3 linked regions of the Homo sapiens genome follow. The protein of the gene in region 1 purifies or fractionates together with the protein of each later gene. This does not show direct contact. Each region holds a gene or a part of one and is shown in the gene's direction. Other genes may lie near its edges.

What was found.
Region 2: the proteins of KCNH4 (region 1) and ARFGEF1 purify together in Homo sapiens (affinity purification with mass spectrometry; one large-scale study listed by BioGRID and IntAct). This does not show direct contact.
Region 3: the proteins of KCNH4 (region 1) and ARFGEF2 purify together in Homo sapiens (affinity purification with mass spectrometry; one large-scale study listed by BioGRID and IntAct). This does not show direct contact.

What each region holds. Positions count from the first base shown.
Region 1 is NC_000017.11:42,167,515-42,171,166, reverse strand, and holds part of KCNH4 (voltage-gated delayed rectifier potassium channel KCNH4), read left to right. Parts: intron 1-865; coding exon 866-1,060; intron 1,061-1,490; coding exon 1,491-1,690; intron 1,691-3,652. UniProt on the Homo sapiens protein: Pore-forming (alpha) subunit of a voltage-gated delayed rectifier. Activates at more negative voltages, exhibits fast prepulse-independent activation kinetics and deactivates much more slowly, but shows no inactivation.
Region 2 is NC_000008.11:67,267,282-67,270,933, reverse strand, and holds part of ARFGEF1 (brefeldin A-inhibited guanine nucleotide-exchange protein 1), read left to right. Parts: intron 1-3,491; coding exon 3,492-3,591; intron 3,592-3,652. UniProt on the Homo sapiens protein: Promotes guanine-nucleotide exchange on ARF1 and ARF3. Promotes the activation of ARF1/ARF3 through replacement of GDP with GTP. Involved in vesicular trafficking.
Region 3 is NC_000020.11:49,029,662-49,033,313, forward strand, and holds part of ARFGEF2 (brefeldin A-inhibited guanine nucleotide-exchange protein 2), read left to right. Parts: intron 1-2,387; coding exon 2,388-2,505; intron 2,506-3,361; coding exon 3,362-3,538; 3' UTR 3,539-3,652. UniProt on the Homo sapiens protein: Promotes guanine-nucleotide exchange on ARF1 and ARF3 and to a lower extent on ARF5 and ARF6. Promotes the activation of ARF1/ARF5/ARF6 through replacement of GDP with GTP. Involved in the regulation of Golgi vesicular transport.

The sequences.
Region 1 (3,652 bases):
CCCCCCCACAACCACCATCCTCACCACAGCCAAATGGGTGTTCCAGGATTCAACGTTGACCCACTACACTCCTTCTGGGATTCCTTCAGTGGCTTCCCACTGCCCTCCAAATGAAGTCCACACTCACTGCACACCCTGGGCGGCCCTGTGCCCCTTCTCTCCCCACCTGCCTTCCCGTTCTCCCGTGCTCCCTGCGCTGCAGCCACACCAGCCTCTCCCCTGGACCCAGGACATACTGCTTTCTCATGCTGGGCCTGGAACATGTTCTTTTCCTCTCTGGAATCCTCCTCTTTTGTCTTCCCTCTCCACCTAGATGGATTTTCCGTTCCCTGCCTCACTTGGAACAATGTTCCTTCGGTTCCATGTGTCTCAACCAAAATGTCCTGTCCTAAGGAGCATGCCTTCCAGGCACCATGTCCAGAACCCCCAACTGCCAATGGGTTGGCTTTCCCTAACCTGTTAGGATTCCTAACACACCCTATACAATACTTTCCTTCCAGGAGCTCACCTCCCACCTGTAATGATTTATGTCATGTCTCTTTCCCCTCCAGGCTATAGGTTCCACCAGGGCAGGGAGAGTGTTTGGCTGGGTCAATTCCCCAACACTTTGTATACAGCAGGTGCACAATAAACTATTAGAAAGTTTCAGGAGCCTTTGAACACTCAGCAATGTAGTTAGTTGGCGGCCTTGGAATGCAACTGTAACCAATGCACCATGGGGAGACACAGGCCCAGGCCACTCCCCACATTTCCTGTGCCAACCTGTGTATAAATACTTGCCGAAGGTCAAGCGTAGGTGGCTCAGGGAACCCTGGTTCTCCACCGCTGGCACAGCCAGGGCTCCCTGCATCCGTCCACCCTGCAGGCTGGTTGCATGAGTTGGGCAAGCGTCTGGAGGTGCCCTATGTCAATGGCTCGGTGGGCGGCCCATCACGGCGCAGCGCCTACATCGCGGCACTGTACTTCACTCTAAGCAGCCTCACCAGTGTGGGCTTTGGCAACGTGTGTGCCAACACCGACGCGGAGAAGATCTTCTCCATCTGCACGATGCTCATAGGCGGTGAGGCCAGACCTGCCACGCCTCAGTGGGGCCCTGCGAAGCCCAGCATGCACGGGGAAACTGAGGCCCAGAGAGGGCAAGACATCTGCCCGAGGTGTCTACCCAAGTCCAGACAGTCACGCATTCATTCACGGACGTTTCCTGAGTGCCCACTATGTGCTGGCCCTGGGGATGCCACAAACAGGCGTGGACTTTTGCAAAGGGGATGGGAAACCCAGGTTCATGACCTAATGGTGGGGAGGCCTGAGAGGAGCATGGGGTGTTACCCATCTCTGGACCACTCCCTATTCCCCACCCTTAGTCTAGTGCCTGGCACCTGGTAGGCACACAGGAGCCCGCTGGCTCTTGGTCCAGGACAGGGTGGGTTTGGGAGCTGGGGAGGTGGCCAGAGGGGTGGCCGCCCCTGACAGGCCCGCTGCTGCTGCTGCAGCCCTGATGCACGCTGTGGTGTTCGGGAACGTGACAGCCATCATCCAGCGCATGTACTCGCGCCGCTCGCTCTACCACAGCCGCATGAAGGACCTCAAGGACTTCATCCGTGTGCACCGCCTGCCGCGGCCGCTCAAGCAGCGCATGCTCGAATACTTCCAGACCACGTGGGCCGTCAACAGCGGCATCGACGCCAACGAGGTAGCCTGCAGGGTCTCCAATCTTGCCCTTGCCCTCCGCGTGGCCCTGCAGTGGGGTGGGGAAGGAGTCGCTGCCCCTGTAGCTTAAAATGGAGGCAGGCCGAACTCGGCTGCTCACACCTGTAATCCCAGCACTTTGGGAGGCTGAGGCGGGCAGGTCACTTGAGGTCAGGAGTTGAAGACCAGCCTGGGCGACATGGTGAAACCCTGTCTCTGCTAAAAATATGAAAATTAGCCAGCTGTGGTGGTGCACGCCTGTAATCCCAGCTACTAGGGAGACTGAGGCACGAGAATCACTTGAACCAGGGAGGCAGAGGCTGCAGTGAGCCAAGATCATGCCACTGCACTCCAGCCTGGGTGACAGAGCTAGACTCTGTCTCAAAAAAAATAAATAAATAAAATGGAGGCGCTGAGCGCAGTGGCTCACACCTGTAATCCCAGCACTTTGGGAGGCCGAGGTGGGCGGATCACAAGGTCAGGAGATCGAGACCATCCTGGCTAACACGGTGAAACCCCATCTCTACTAAAAATACAAAAAATTAGCCGGGCATGGCAGCGTGCACCTATAGTCCCAGCTACTCAGGAGGCTGATGCAGGAGAATGGCATGAACCCGGGAGGCGGAGCTTGCAGTGAGCCGAAATTGTGCCACTGCACTCCAGCCTGGGCGGCAGAGCGAGACTCTGTCTCAAAAATAAAAATAAAAATAAAAATAAAAAAATAAATAAATAAAATAAAAGGGAGGCAAACAGGGCCCGGGGGGTGAGGTATTGTTCACAAGGGCACACATTTGCCCAAAATACAAATTCTTGCTTCTTTTCTTTTTTTCTTTTTTCAAGAAGGAGTCTTGCTCTGTCGCCCACGCTGGAGTGCAGTGGTGTGCTCTCAGCTCACTGCAACCTCTGCCTCCCAGGTTCAAGGAATTCTTCTGCCTCAGCTTCCTGAGTATCTGGGATCACAGGCACCTGCCACCATGCTCGGCTGATTTTTGTATTCTTAGTAGAGACGGGGTTTCACCATGTTGGTCAGGCTTGTCTCGAACTCTTGACATCGTAATACACCTGCTTCAGCCTCCCAATTTGCTGGGATTACAGGCGTGCACCACCACAGCCGGCCAAATTCTTGTTTCTTTGCACTTGAATAAGGGAATGAAAGAGCTCAGGGCCCAGCTGATGCGACTCTCCCTTCTGCCAACATTTCCTGAGTGCCTGCTTTGGGCCAGCCTTGGTGCTGGGCACAGAGAGCTTAGAGATGATGACACTTAGCCCTGGCCCTCAGGGAGACCCAGAGTATTGAGGGAGGCAGAAAGATGAACAGAGAGTGCCGCGCTGAATGGGGCTGTAAAGGAGGGATGTCGGTGCCTTCAGGTCCTCATTGTGCCTGGGTGGGGAGGAGTCAAGGAAGGTGGCAATGCCAGGTAGAAATGGCCTTAGGGACACAGGCCAGAAGTGATGGCACAAAAGAGCAGAGTGAGCGCTTTAGGGAACTGAAAGCGGCTCAATAAGCCCGCAGGAATGGGCATGTGAGTGCTGCGGAGGGAGAAGGCAGGGCAGGAAGGCACGACATGGGCTGGGAGGCAGCAGGCCCAGCTCAGGGATGGCCTAGAATTTAGATTTTATCCTGCTTAATGTTTAGACTGGGGAGTGGTGTGGGGATCTTGGAGGGAATGGGTTGGTGAGGTATCTCTGAGGATGGGATCTGTGGGACGTGGTAATCTCCTGCTGGTTGCAAGAGAGGAGCTCAGAGTGACTCCCAGTTTTCTGGCTTAGGCCAAGGGTGGGGATGGAGGCATAACAGGGGGAAGATGGGCTTTGGGATGAAGGTGAGAGTCCCGGGTCAGACCAAGAGGAGGGTATAGTGCCTGGGGGAGGTCCAGAGAGAGGCTGCCCGGTAGGTAGATGGGAATCAGCTCTTGGCTGGGTGCGGTGGCTCATACCTGTAATCCCAGCACTTTGGGAGGCTGAG
Region 2 (3,652 bases), on another chromosome or scaffold:
TCCTGCCTTAGCTTCCCGAGTAGCTGGGATTATAGGCATGTGCCACCACGCCTGGCTAATTTTGTATTTTTAGTAGAGACAGGGTTTCTCCATGTTGGTCAGGTTGGTCTCAAACTCCCGACCTCAGGTGATCTGTCCGCGTCCGCCTCCCAAAGTGCTGGGAGCATAGGTGTGAGCCACTGCGCCCAGCTTTATGTGGTTTTTTTTTTTTTTTTTTTTAAGGTGTACCAGTTTCTGATTTTTTGTTTTCATCTTCAAATAAAACTTAAAAATAGTACTTTATGTTTTACCAATTTAATGAATGCTTTTTTCAATTTGTTATTTGTTGAAATGTTGTTTTGGTTGTGATGTTGTATGGTTTTGAAATACTCATTTTTATGTTGTCAGTTTTTACCTTCATATTATGTTTGATATACAGGTTATATTTTAATTTTTGTTAATTTTATATTTAATCCTAACTCAAGACTCATAATTCACTAGCTTGTTAGAAAGGATAAATTATTTTTCCAGAATTTCGAAATGGCTAAAATAGTCATATTATCCTTTAATGTTAATGTTCTGTAATAGCTATCAAGATTGATTTAGAGCATTGTTATGAGAATGAAACAGAATTAGGCCTTGGTATTTTAAGTGAAAAGCTTTTTAATTTGGGCCATATTTTTGGACAGGAAACCATTTTTGGTGCCTATATGATGTATGATGTCAAGTTTTAAGAGTTTGCCATATGTCTGTTAAGATAATACAAGGCGTTTAACTAGGAAGAGTTGCCGTTTTTAGATAGTTTTTCCCCATTATCTGTAGGAACTATAAATAAAAGACAGTTAAAAAAACTTTTAGAACTTTTGCTTTTGTAAAAAACCAGAAGTCTTTCATCTGATGATGAGACATTTAAGTTGGCATTAGAAAATTTTGTAATACTTTATGTAACCAATTACAGATTTTTTTGGACACTGAGATTCTGCTTCTGTAGGTACTGTTTACCGACAGTAAAATATAAATTCTTAGATCTAGATATCAAAAATTATTTAAGTTGAGATTACTATTTTTGCACAGCAAATTCAACTTTGCAAAAATGAATTTGAAAGGAAAAACTTTAAGAAATTTCTTGTCAATTTGTAGATGTCAGATTCTCATTACAAAATTATTATAATATTCTAATTTTTAAAAATTAGGTTTATTTCACTCCTTATTGTCCCTCAGGGGGCGATAATGAGGGTAAAATGAGATAAATATAGATATACTTTCAAAAATGTTATACACACTCAAATTATAAATGAGTTGAGCACCGGGCACAGTGGCTCACACCTGTAATCCCAGCACTTTGGGAGGCCGAGGCGGGTGGATCACCTGAGGTCAGGAGTTCGAGACTAGCCTGACCAACATGGAGAAACCCCATCTCTACTAAAAATACAAAATTAGCCGGGTGTGGTGGTGCATGCCTGTAATCCCAGCTACTTGGGAGCAGAGGCAGGACAATCGCTTGAACCTGGGAGGCCGAGGTTGCAGTGAGCTAAGATCGCGCCATTGCACTCCAGCCTGGTCAACAAGAGCGAAACTCCATCTCAAAAAAAAAAAAAAAAAAAGCTGAACGTGGAGAAAGCCCAGCTATGAAAACCTAAATTTGCAAAACAAAATTAAGATTGTTTTTACATGAAGATTCATTTTATGAGAATATTCACTTCAGAGTTTCTGTGATGTGATTTTTTCATGGGTCTTAAATTATATATCTATTCCAGAAGATACAGTTTATGTACAACTTTTCAGGAGAACATATGTGAAGACAGCATACTTAAGATATAGCTGTTGTTCCACATACATACATTATAGGTCCTCGATAAATTATTAAAAGGTTGATTTTTTTAGAGCCCCTATTATGATAGGCATAATATCTTATATTACAGCAATAGACTTTTGCTTATTAGTGCAATTTGATAAACCATTGATAGTAGCTAAAATTTTTTCTTCCCTCTCTCTTCCAGTCTATATTATTTATTTTGTCAATCAGAGGATCCCAAAAGTTTTTGATTCACAAGTCTGACTTTTCATGAAAGTTGCACTTTGGCCAGAGGAATACCTCCAGTTCTATGTTCTATTTATTAAGCAGGCAGGGCCAAACAACTTAATGGATATTTGTCTTCACAGCCTACTATGTATTTCAAAGACAATAGTATGCATAAAGTAAAAGAAAAATAATGTTTTTATTTTATTCTTTACCGCAATTACTTACCACTGGGATGCGTGTGCCTATTAGAAACTGCACACAGCTTCTTAGATCTTGGAATTGAATACTGTCCCCCTCATTCCTGTACTTCATTGATTTTCATTCAGTACTTGGTTTTTTATCATAGCAACTACCAAAACCCAGCTTTGCGGAGATAATTATGTCATTGAAGGGAATGTAGTGTGATTTATTTGAAACCATGAGCAATCTTTTGAGGTATCCAACAGATGTATCTCCCTCTGAATTTTGCCTCAGAATTTTTTCAGGGCACCCTCATGAGTTTGCTACAGCATTCTGGGGTACTTTGATGCAGTTTTTGGGAATTGTGGCCATGTTGCCATAAGTATTTATTGAACACCTACTATGTGCCCTGCAATATGGACGTGATCTTTATCAAGAAAGACCTGGTCATTACTGTCTTCAAGCTTACAGTCTATAGGAGATACTGATATTAAACAAGTAAATAGAAATATGCTGAGTTTTGTGAAAGAAAATCACATTACAGGGGTACCTAATCCAGTTAGGGGGAGATACTATAAATGTGATTTTCTGGGTTCATAATGCATATGTTTCATAAATGTTAATATGTTGGTTGTTTCAGTCATTCCTTCTTAAAGTCACTTTTATAGAATACATTTAAATCTGAAAATTCTTATCTGTTAAATTGAAATTTATCTCATTAGGTTGATTAACTCACTGCTTGATTATTTGGTGTAAAGAGTAGTGAGAAATAGTTCATATGTAGTTTTCAAACAGTAGAGATTTTCACTTTTGTGAGTAATTAGAAAAATAAAACCGTATGAGACTTAGATTGTTTTTATTGTGTTGATTAGAGTATCAGTTACATTTAAATCTACGAACAGTTAGGCCTCTCAGTACTAGAACGTCTCTGAAAAATATAACTGATGAACAGAAGTATAAATTACGCTTTTGGAGGGGGATTAAAAAAGCGTAAGTTATATTCTGTAAAAATGTTAAAGAAATTATCACCTAGAGGAACTCTAAATCTTTGCATATTTCTTTTGTAGCAGCTGTGTTGAGAACAAAACACATCAATGTGAATTGCAGTACTGATAACTAGAAGGGCAAGTTTAAGTCACTTACCCAAGATATTTTAGTCCTGAGGATTCAGAGATGGAACTCAAAAGGAGTTGAACTCCATAAGAGCCTGGGTCCTAATACCTGCTCTATAGCTCTGGGATGTTTAAAAAGTGATCACACATATGAATTCTAAACAATATTTTAAACAGAAGTTTTCTCCTAATCACAGGTGTTCTTTAAAGAAATTTTCTTATACATTTTGGAAACTTCTACCAGCTCATTTGATCACAAATGGATGGTTATTCAGACACTGACGAGGATTTGTGCAGGTATTTTAAATTATCCTTTTTATTATCTCTTTCTTATTATTAGATATTTAAAAGGCCAAAT
Region 3 (3,652 bases), on another chromosome or scaffold:
GCTCACTGCAAGGTCCACTTCCTGGGTTCAACCAATTCTCCTGCCTCGGCCTCCTGAGTAGCCAGGATTACAGGCGCGTGCCACCATACCTGGCTGGTTTTTTGTATTTTTAGTGGAGATGGGGTTTCACCATGTTGGTCAGGCTAGTCTCAAACTCCTGACCTCAGGTGATCTGCCGACCTCCGCCTCCCAAAGTGCTGGGATTACAGGCATGAGCCACCGTGCCCAGCCTAAAAGTGAATTTTTTTTTTTTTTTTTTTTTTTGAGACAGAGTCTTGCTCTGTCACTCAGGCTGGAGTGCAGTGGCGTGATCTTGGCTCACTGCCACCTCTGCCTCCCGGGTTCAAGTGATTCTTCTGCATCAGCCTCCCGAGTAGCTGGGACTACAGGCGTGTGCCATCACACACCTGGCTAATTTTTGTGTTTTTAGTAGAGACAAAGTTTCACGATATTGGCCAGGATGGTCTTGAACTCCTGACCTCGTGATCCCCCCACCTCGGCCTCCCAAAGTGCAGGGATGGGCGTGAGCCACTGCGCCCGGCCTAAAAGTGAAATTTTTAAGAAATAATTTTACTTAATGTGGGAACTTTTTCATAATACAATAATTTTTACCCCAAAAAAAGCTGCAAAAGTGTTTTTACTTGGAATTTTCAGCAATTGGGGCATTTTATTTGTTTTTTTAGAGTCAGGGTCTTGCTATGTTGCCTAGGCTGGTCTCGAACTCCTGGGCTTACGAGCTCTTCCTGCCTCAGCCTCCTGAGTAGCTGGGACTACAGGCGAGCAATTTTTCTTTTGAAATCTTAGCAAAAAAAAAAAAAACTGGAAGGAAATATGCCAAAATATTGTCATGTATCCCTTAGAATGATGTAGCTATTTTTCTTTATAATTTTTTTCATAATTTTTTACATATATCAGTTACCTTACAATGAGAATAACAAGTCATAAAGTGAAAAAAGAATTAATTAATTAAAGGAGGCACCAATGGCTCATTTCAGCTTAAGCCCAAAAGACAAATACCTACAGTCTCATAAAGTTTCTCTAAAGGAGATATGTAGGGCCGGGCGCGGTGGGTCACATCTGTAATCCCAGCACTTTGGGAGGCCGAGCCAGGTGGATCACAAGGTCAGGAGTTTGAGACCAGCCTGGCCAACATGGCCCTGTCTCTACTAAAAATACAAAAATTAACCAGGCATGGTGGCAGGCGCCTGTAATCCCAGCTACTCGGGAGGCTGAGGCAGGAGAATCACTTGAACCCAGGAGGCAGAGGTTGCAGTGAGCCAAGATTGTGCTGTTGCACTCCAGCCTGGGCAACAAGAGCAAGACTCCGTCTCAAAATAAAAAAAAGAGATATGTAAATGTCAAGTTTTTGGCATGTTTTTTAAAAAAGCAATTAAATGTGATTGTGAGGAGAGAAAGGCAGTTATATAATTATGAGTAATAAGCTCTTGTGCTACAGACATTGATTGAGTTCAGCCCTAGCCATGTGCCAGGACTGAGCCAAGTTATGACTTAACATATTTACTTCATTTAATCCTCACAACAACCCCTTGAGTTTGGACTTTTTTTTTTTTTTTTTTTTTTTTTTTTTGAGATAGTCTCACTCTATCGCCCAGGCTGGAGTGCAGTGGTGCAATCTCAGTTTACTGCAACCTCCACCTCCTGAGTTCAAGTGATTCTTGTGCCTCAGCCACCTGAGTAGCTGGAATTACAGATACGCACCACCACACCCAGCTAATTTTTCTATTTTTAGTAGAAATGGGGGTTTGCTACATTGGCCGGGCTGTCTCGAACTCCTGGCTTCAAGTGATCTGCTTGCGTTGGCCTCCCAGAGTGCTGGGATTATAGGCATGAGTCACTGCACCTGGCCAGGCAATTTTTTATCTCCATTTTATAGCTGAAGAAACTAAGGCTCAGTGATTTGCCCAAGATAGCACAGCCAGAGTGGGTGCTCAATAGTTATTGCAGTGGCTGGGCTCAGAGGCTCAGGCTCACATCTATAATCCCAGCACTTTGGGAAGCCAAGGCAGACAGATTGCTGAGCCCAGGAGTTCAAGACCAGCCTGGGCAACGTGGTGAAACCCCATCTCTACTAAAAATCAAAAAAATTAGCCAGGCATGGTGGCGCAAGCATGTAGTGTTAGCTGCTTCAGAGGCAGAGGTGGGAGGATCAGCTTGAGCCCGAGGAGGTCAAGGCTACAGTGAACCTTGATCACACCACTGCACTCCAGCCTGGGCCGCAGAGCAAGACCCTGTCTCAAAAAAAAAAAAGTAATTAAAAAAAACATGTTAAAATAATTTTAAAAATAGCACAAGAATGAATAGTTCTCCCCTGAATGTGAGATGTTAATCAATTGTTTGATATGCCTCCCCCTCTCTAATTCTTCTAGTGTTTGCAGTGAAGCTCTTGCCTATTTCATCACTGTGAATTCTGAGAGCCATCGGGAGGCCTGGACAAGTCTCTTGTTGTTACTTCTAACTAAAACCCTCAAAATAAATGATGAAAAGGTATGAACAAGTAAACTCTGACCAATTTTCACTAGGACATAAAGTTTGGGTTGGCTTTTTACTCAAGAGTTTGCAGTAACTATTTTCTCAGTTCTCCCAAGGATGGTTACGTGACTAGCACCATTCTAGATGCATTGGAGAGAAGTTAATCCGTTATGGACAATGGGTGCCACAGGATATTAGGGCTTTTTGCCTGGAAGAACAGTAGTTGAGAACGGCTGAAGTGTAGACCTCATGTGTTGCTGTTAGGAATGGTATGGTGAGTTTCAGTGCAGGAAGAGAGGGTTAAGATTGTGAAGCACCAGTTTTGACCTAGGAACCTGCTTTACAAAATAAAAGAGCTGTTGACTTTTGGCAGCAAGACTATCCAAATTTAATTAAAGTTAAATATAACTGAAAGAAGCTTTAATTTGCAAGGTTTCTTCAACTTCTTTTTTTTTTTTTGAGACAGAGTCTTGGTCTGTCACACAGGCTGGAATGCAGTGACGTAATCTAGCTCACTGCAATTTCTGCCTCCCAGGCTCAAGCGATCCTCCCACCTCAGCCTCCTGAGTAGCTGGGACCACAGACACGCGCCACTATGCCCAGCTAAGTTTTTGTATTTTTGGTAGAGACAGGGTTTCACCGTGTTGCCTAGGCTGGTCTCGATCTCCTGAGCTCAAGCGATCCACCTGCCTCGGCCTCCCCAAGTGCTGGGATTATAGGCGTGAATCACTGCGCTCGGCCCCAACTTTCTAATAGCAAGAAAAGCACCAATATTGTAATAAGTTCCAGGGTGAGATTAACACTTCTGAAAAACTGGTGCCCAAAAAAAAAAAAAATTGTCTAATTTTATCTGTTTCTCTCCCACCTCAAGTTCAAAGCACATGCTTCAATGTACTACCCCTACTTGTGTGAAATTATGCAGTTTGACCTGATCCCTGAGCTCCGAGCAGTTCTGCGGAAGTTCTTCCTACGGATAGGTGTTGTGTATAAGATATGGATACCAGAAGAGCCATCACAGGTACCAGCAGCACTGTCACCAGTGTGGTAGCCCTGGCTGCCCAGGCCAGTGCTGCAGCTCTGCAGAATGTTCAGCATGCCATTTCTGACTGGCACATCTCGTGAAGTTTCATAGAAACAAGGAGTTGGCATCTTGGATCTCAGA